2 linked regions of the Homo sapiens genome follow. The protein of the gene in region 2 purifies or fractionates together with the protein of the main gene of each other region. This does not show direct contact. Each region holds a gene or a part of one and is shown on either strand. Other genes may lie near its edges. The genes, in order: DLD and TNFAIP8.

Evidence for each region.
Region 1: the proteins of TNFAIP8 (region 2) and DLD fractionate together in Homo sapiens (co-fractionation; one large-scale study listed by BioGRID). This does not show direct contact.

What each region holds. Positions count from the first base shown.
Region 1 is NC_000007.14:107,904,499-107,908,323, forward strand, and holds part of DLD (dihydrolipoyl dehydrogenase, mitochondrial isoform 1 precursor), read left to right. Parts: intron 1-459; coding exon 460-560; intron 561-862; coding exon 863-1,006; intron 1,007-1,768; coding exon 1,769-1,870; intron 1,871-3,825. UniProt on the Homo sapiens protein: Lipoamide dehydrogenase is a component of the glycine cleavage system as well as an E3 component of three alpha-ketoacid dehydrogenase complexes (pyruvate-, alpha-ketoglutarate-, and branched-chain amino acid-dehydrogenase complex).
Region 2 is NC_000005.10:119,358,840-119,362,664, reverse strand, and holds part of TNFAIP8 (tumor necrosis factor alpha-induced protein 8), read right to left. Parts: intron 1-3,825. UniProt on the Homo sapiens protein: Acts as a negative mediator of apoptosis and may play a role in tumor progression.

The sequences.
Region 1 (3,825 bases), on a different chromosome or scaffold from region 2:
TGATTAAAACCTAGGTGATTAAACTTTTTAATGTTAAGCTTCTGTATTTGAAATTTTTAAACGTGTATTTTTTATTTGTTTTGTTTCATGAAATCTAGCATTTTCCTTTATTTAAAATTTCAGATGATGTTTTACTTTGTCATTTCTACTTACATATCTTCCAGACTTATAACCATCGTAAAGTGTTCAGAGGATATGTTATCACAGTGGGATATAATGTTTTATTTTGGACTGCCTTTTTACCCAAGGTAGACATTTTATAGTGTTTGATAGGTTCTGTTTCTGTGATACAATGATGTTGGCCTTTTGTCAACTATAATTATAAGTTATTACATTTTGAAACTTTAATACTGCCTTTTATAAGCATTAGGTTGAAATTTTCCAGTTGGTGAGTGAAAAACACTGCATATTGCTTCAAGAATTTAGCTAAGAACTAAAGATTAATTGAACAAATTACAGTGTCCGAAGTTCGCTTGAATTTAGACAAGATGATGGAGCAGAAGAGTACTGCAGTAAAAGCTTTAACAGGTGGAATTGCCCACTTATTCAAACAGAATAAGGTCAGTGTTTAATATTCAGATTTCTGCTTTACTTTGAATACAAATTAAACTTTGCATTATAGAGTGATGATATTTGAACTTGGTTACAGGGGAATATTTATTTAATTTAAAATAGCTTGCTAACCTGAAATAGATTTCCCTGACATATATCACAGATTTTTTTGCTGCACCATGGTGTAGCATTACTAAGTAAGGAAGCATTTTGTTTTAGATAAATTATTTACAGAGTAATTTTTCCTTTGAATGATTTATCAAACAAATTACTTTAAACTTTGTGAATTTATAAAGATTATTTTGTAAAGGTTGTTCATGTCAATGGATATGGAAAGATAACTGGCAAAAATCAAGTCACTGCTACGAAAGCTGATGGCGGCACTCAGGTTATTGATACAAAGAACATTCTTATAGCCACGGGTTCAGAAGTTACTCCTTTTCCTGGAATCACGGTATTTATGCTTCATAATTTACAACCATTACAACTTTTCTTTAGAAATACGTTTTATAAGTTATTTATGCTATTTGTGAACTTTGAGAGATTTCTGACTGAAATACTATATTTTGATGGTCATTCAGCTTTGGGAAGTTACCTGTCTTTATTCTGCAGTGATTCTGACCAGCTATAGAACACTTTATATTAAGATATGTTTGAATACAGTATGAAGTTAAAATTGACCATTGCGTTTGGAATATTGGTGGATAAAATTTAAAGTCAGTGTTTTTAATGGGATTTGATGAAATTAGGTATATAGATACCTCAAAACAAATAAATGACTTAGTATTTTTAGTGATTCTACTGAGATCACAGTTTATAAATACATTTATCTCTTCATATCCTTGGAGGATTGGTTCCAGGACCCCCCTTGGATACCAAAACCCACAGATGCTCAAGTGCCTTACATAAAATGACATAGTATTTGCATATAATCTGCATACTTCCTCCTGTATACTTTAAGTCATCTCTGGATTACTTATAATACCTAATACACTGTAAATGCTATGCAAGTAGTTCCTATGCTGTATTGTTTAGGGAATAATGACAAAAAAACCATGTGTACATGTTCAGTACAGATGCAACCATCAATTTTTTTCCTGAATATTTTCAATTAATGGTTGGTTAAATCTGCAAATTTGGAACCCATGGATATGGAGGGTCGACTGTACTAGGTTTTTTCAAATTATTTTGATTATATCTTTTGTTTTTCTTACAGATAGATGAAGATACAATAGTGTCATCTACAGGTGCTTTATCTTTAAAAAAAGTTCCAGAAAAGATGGTTGTTATTGGTGCAGGAGTAATAGGTGTAGAATTGGTAAGTGTTGTCTTTCTGCCTCTTATTACCTCCTTGGAGTTGGAAGGGACTTAAAGGTCCCCTTTTTGATTTTTTGTATAACATTACAGGCTGATCAGCATTGAGTTTTGCTTAAACACTTCTAGTAATAAAGAGTTTACTTTTGTTTTTTTCAAGACAACCTATTTATGTATTTACTCATTTAGAATGTTCTCCTTTATTTTAGTCTGTTTCCTTGTACCTTCCACCCTTCCATTTCCTAGAACTGGTCGAATTCTTTTTTAATATGACAGCCATTCAGATATTTGAGGACAGCTTTTATCCTGGGCAAATTGCATTCCAAATAAAGATTATTCTCTTTACCATCACATACATGATTTGGCTCTTCCCTTCTCTATCCTCATCTTGATGCCTCTTAACTTAGGTTTTAGAAATGTCAAACTACTTGCATTTCTTTGAACACCATGTTATTTTAGACCTTCTGTCTGCCTTGTTCTCCCTTCTTGTCCATCTGGCAGCTTTCCACACATTTCCAATGACCTCCCTCCATTTTAGAGTCACTGTGCCTTGTAAACACCAGGAATTGCTCTACTTCTGAAATAATAAATTCAGATATTTTATTATGTAACCATGACCTCCTTTCCTCTTTTACTCAGTTATTCATAGTGTACTTTGTACCCTTTTTTAGGTTTTCTAGTCCATAGATCTACTTTTTTGCAATCTTCCCTTTCCAATCTTGACTGCGTTCCTGATCAGCTTAGATGCCATAGTCCATCACTTTAACCACACTCTTACAGATGTCCTTGAGTTGCTTGTCTCACTGTTCTGTCATATCTGCTTGGCAAAACTCTAGTTCGGTTTGAATGCAGCAGTCTGCCTTTTTTATGCTATTTCCAGGCTGTTGACTACACCTGGAGAAAAACACACCCTACTCATTGGTACTTGTATTAATTCTTGGCACAAACCTTAACAAGAACCTCAGCCTTGCTGACAGTTTATTATTTCCTAAGATGGTACACTGCCCTGGTCTCTGCAATGGCCATTTTCATTTTCTACTCTTCTCAAATCTCTGCTTGTATACTGTCTGCTCTGCCTGTGGATGACCTTGTCTTTTAAATATTACATAAAAGAGAAATCAGATGAGAACTCCCTCAAGTTGATGTCCTAAATTTGATAATGCTTTTACCTGTTGTTACACCTATCCTTTTGATTACCTCTCCTATTACTGTGGAAATGCCATTTTCCCTAAGACTAATCCCTTTACTTGTGCTTGGTAGCACATCATCTGCCTTTTCAGAGACTTGGTTTTGTGATTTTTATTCTTGTATTTTTCAGTCTTCAAACTCCTTCCTTTTATTTACAATTTCATGTGCTTCTATGTGTGTACCTGTGATGCATTTGCACTCATTAACACAGGTTTGTGTGCACATAAATGCTCCTTATCTTGGTCCCATGTCCTTCTTGAGTTACCAATTTTGTTCGCACTTTTCCTTCAAAACCCAGCTTCTCAAAAGAGTTGTCCATGCTTTATTTCATCAACTTCCACTCACTCAGTCTATGGCTTGTGCCAATAAATTGCTCTTAGGGCATGAATCTATTTATTGCTCAATCTGTTGGACTAATTTCTTCACTGCTTTATTTGGCAGTAATTAGCATTGCTGATTTTCTTGCCTTTGAAACACTTTGCCTAACTTCTGTGATTTCATATTCTTCCATTTTTACATCTGCTCTTTGGGCTGAATTCTCCATATTATGCAAGTTCCCCTTTCTTAGGCTTCCCTTTAATTGTTAGTATTTTTGTTTTTCTTTTTTTTTTTTTTTGAGTCCGAGTCTTGCTGTGTCGCCCAGGCTGGAGTGCAGTGGCGCGATCTCGGCTCACTGCAACTTCTGCCTCCCGGGTTCAAGTGATTCTCCTGCCTCAGCCTCCCAAGTAGCTGAGACTACAGGCGCCCGCCAGCACGCCCGGCTAATTTTTG
Region 2 (3,825 bases):
TCCACTGTGCCTAATTTTTAAATTTTTTTTGTAGAGATGGGGGGTCTCACTTTGTTGCCCAGGCCGGTCTTGAACTCCTGGGGTCAACTGACCCACCTCCTTCAACCTCTCAAAGTGCTGTAATTACAGGTGTGAGCCATTGTGCCTAGCCTTAATTTTTCCAATGGGGAAACTGAACTTCAGAAAGATTAAGTAGCTATTGAAGGTTGCACAGACAACCAGGAACAAAGTCATGAGTAGGATCAGTCTCCTGACTCACAGGGTCTTATCTCTGTTACCTACATACAATGTCCCCCTGGGAAAGTCCAGCTTCTAGACTGGCCCCATGTACCACTACAACATCACCACGAATGCCCACCATGATCACTGCTCTCCACACTTCTGTAGACATTCTTCCTGATCCCAGCACACAGCATAAGTAGGTTCCCTGTCACTCACTCTTTCTTTTTCTCTTCTCCATTTGCTTAAAGGAACTAGCTGGAATACAAGTTACCCCTCTTTGAAGTCACTTCTGTCCATCATGACTTTTGGTGAATACCCCCTCTTCTAGACTTTCATAGGGTCCACTGTCTGATCCTCTGAGCTGTACTCATCCCTCTCCATCATGTATTTTTGTACTATGGATGCACATGTGCTGTGTGTGATGCCCTGAACCAAAAACTCTCTGAAGATGGGGTTATCTACACACACATTTTTGCTTCTCCAGGCCCTGCAGAGGAGGTGCTATCTCAGTTAACATTTGTTGTTAGGAGTATCTGAGGCTCAAAGAAGGCAGCAGCAGGCAAGGGAGAGGGGCTGCACCCTGGAAGCAGGAGTCTACTGGACAGTCCATGACAGGCAGAACAGCCTGTGCCTCTGGGGACACCCCTGGTCCCCAGCTTCTCAGCCTGGCTGCGTAGGCCACATGAAAACACATATTGAAGCCAGGTGAGCTGGCACCAAGCATAAATGGCAGGTCAAACTGGAAGGAAAATTCATGAGCTGCTTATTCACTTCTTGACAGTCAACCCTGACTTCAACAAATGTGGTCTGGAGGCTTCAGGCACCTAAAGCTATCAGAGCCACGTAGGGAATTCTGCTTATAGTCTCTTTGCTTCATCACCTTCTTAGAAGAAACTCTGTTCCTAGTTACTTATAAAATTAACTATTATTCACTACAAAGCTGGAGAATGTATTATCATTAAGTCCACATAAACACAACTCCTCCCCTCCCCCATCTTCAAAACCATATAAATACCAGCTTAACTAACAGGCTTTACTCAATCTTACAGATTCCCAGGGCAGCACTCCCTTAGGCAATTTATTCCCAACTCAGCAGTTAGTCACTCAGGACATACTACATCCCTGTACCTCTTCTTCAAGGCTTATAAACTTTTAGAATAAAATTTAAGCAATTGCTCTTTCAGATATCTTGGTCAGCGGCTGGGGGGGCAGTGCGCTGCAGCCCCGCAAATGCTTCCTGAGAAAGGTGTCCTGACTCCCAGAGTGCACCGGGCCTGCTGCAATGTGCTCCAGAGAAAGAGAGGCTGTGGGATGTCTGCTTTTGCAATAGCACATTCTGTGTCAGAATGCTGACTCCCTTCCCACCCACACACATACATACCTTCTCCCCAAGGAAGAGTGTCTGTACCCAACCAACACCCTCAATAGCTAATTTTTCCTGAATGATATTCTCAAAGGAATGAAAACAAGTGAGCTCACTGTTTACCTGCCTCTCACTTGGTCTACAACTTTCAAAATCCGGGATCTAATAGGATCTACTTGCAGAGCTAAATTTTATTTCACAATGTCTCATGTTTTATTCTCTTGAGTTACACGTAGAAGGTGAAACAGGAAATCTTCATTTGTTTAAACATTCATCTGCGTTTTATAAATCCCCCCAAGAGGTAGTGAATGACAACTATACAAACAGACTAGGTCTGTCCTACTTCAAGGAGAGTGCATACAAATACCCAGGATGCTAAAACCTGTGTTTGCAAAAATCCTTGCTTGCAGAACATGTATTAAAGAGGATAGAAAGGGCTTGGCAATCACCTTGCTGGGCCTCAGTGCCTCACCTCTAAAATGAAGAGGTCAGAAAGAAGGATTGGCAAAGTCGCTTTTAGCTCTAAATCATGGTGATTCTATGTGTATTTGGTGGGAGAAGGGCACTTTAAATTACAGAAGACTTCTTACTACAGACCTTCCTTAAACATTAAAGATATACATATCATTTGGTTTTGTTTTAATTCAGCTTACACTATGTTTTAAAGAACAATCTTCTCTAAATGAAGACAGGTCTATAACCACACTAATCTCACTGACTTACAAGTTGCTAGCATAAAGACAGAAATGCTGACAAATAAATGATTTATAGGTAAATCCAGCAATTCTGCAGTGTTCTGAAATGCAATCGCTGGGTCCTGAGTTTTTCTGGCTCTACTGCATTCTCTTTCACCCACCCACTTTTTGGCTACTTCCTGGATCACCAACAGTCAGGAGCAGGAAATTTAATCATCCATATAATCCTGACTGTTCAATGGCGTAAGGTGGGGGCAAGAAAGGTAGGATGCATATTCAATATGATAAAAATTTCAGAAGTGAGGGGAAAAAAGCTCCAAATGCATTTAAGTTTACAGAGCTGGAGGTGTCTGGCAATGCCAAGTTATCAAGTGATGTCCACTGTAGAGGAGAGAGTATGATAGATCTCTAAATGGATTTTCCACTTTTAGTCCTTGTCAGCACACAACACTCCAAGCCTAATGACTACATAAAAGGAAACAGATAAGCACGTCAAAGTCCGGTGTTTAAGAGCATATGCTGTACCTTTTACATTATGTATGACATCAAGGTCAGCTATACCCCTTGGTTTCATCAGAGCTGAACCACTGCTTTAACCTCCTTTTCTCTTCATTCCCTCTGCAAAGCAAAGGCTGGGGAAGGGCAGGAATAGGGGAGAAAACTTACAAAATAGTCCTTAGTGATGAATGATATTATATAAGCTGCCACACCATGTGAGGTTAAAACAGAGTACTACACAGTGTGGTAGCTTATAAAATATCATTGGGATTCTTATTACAGAAGAGGATATTAATCACCACTACGGAACAACTAAACTTTTTTTTTTTTGCCAAGGATTAACTTTAAAGAATGGAGACCATTCACTCAATCTACAACATTTAATGAGCACCTTTTACTCTGTAGGTCCTAGACATACAGCGGGGAATAAAACAGACATTGTTTTTCCCTGCAGAGCTTGTGGTCTAGAAGAGATGTTAAGCAGTGTGGGGAGAGCCAGCAAGGAAAGGAACAGGTGCTCTGAGAGAGGGCGACAGGGGATCTGAGTTTAGGTTCAGAAAAAGCCTCTTTAAAGAGCTGACCAAGAAAAGGAGGTCAGGTGGAGAGAAGGATATTTTGGGCAGGAAGACCAGCAAGTGCCAATGTCCTAGAATGGGGAGCTTGAGTTCTTCTATATGCAGAAAAGAAGGAGCCAGGAAGGATATGGGCTGACTGGTGTAGGAGGAGCCCAAGGTGGAAGGCGGGGCATTCTGCAGTAGGAATGACACCTGTTCCACAGACACAGGGAGGATAGATGTGGACGGAGATGAGTCTGTCAGTCTGGGAACAGGACGTTGAGGGAGTTATCTAATGGCTACTGTTTTCTTTGTGAAATAGCAGGCCTGGTGAGGCATGAGAGTAAGAACTGGGTGAGGTGGTGGTGGGAAATGGCTACTATGGGCAATGGAGGAGCGAGCCAGACTCACTCACCACTCAATCCTCACTCTTTTCCAAGTCCCCACAAAGTGACACCTCGCCCACCCCTTAACAATGGCTTTCTCAATTTCT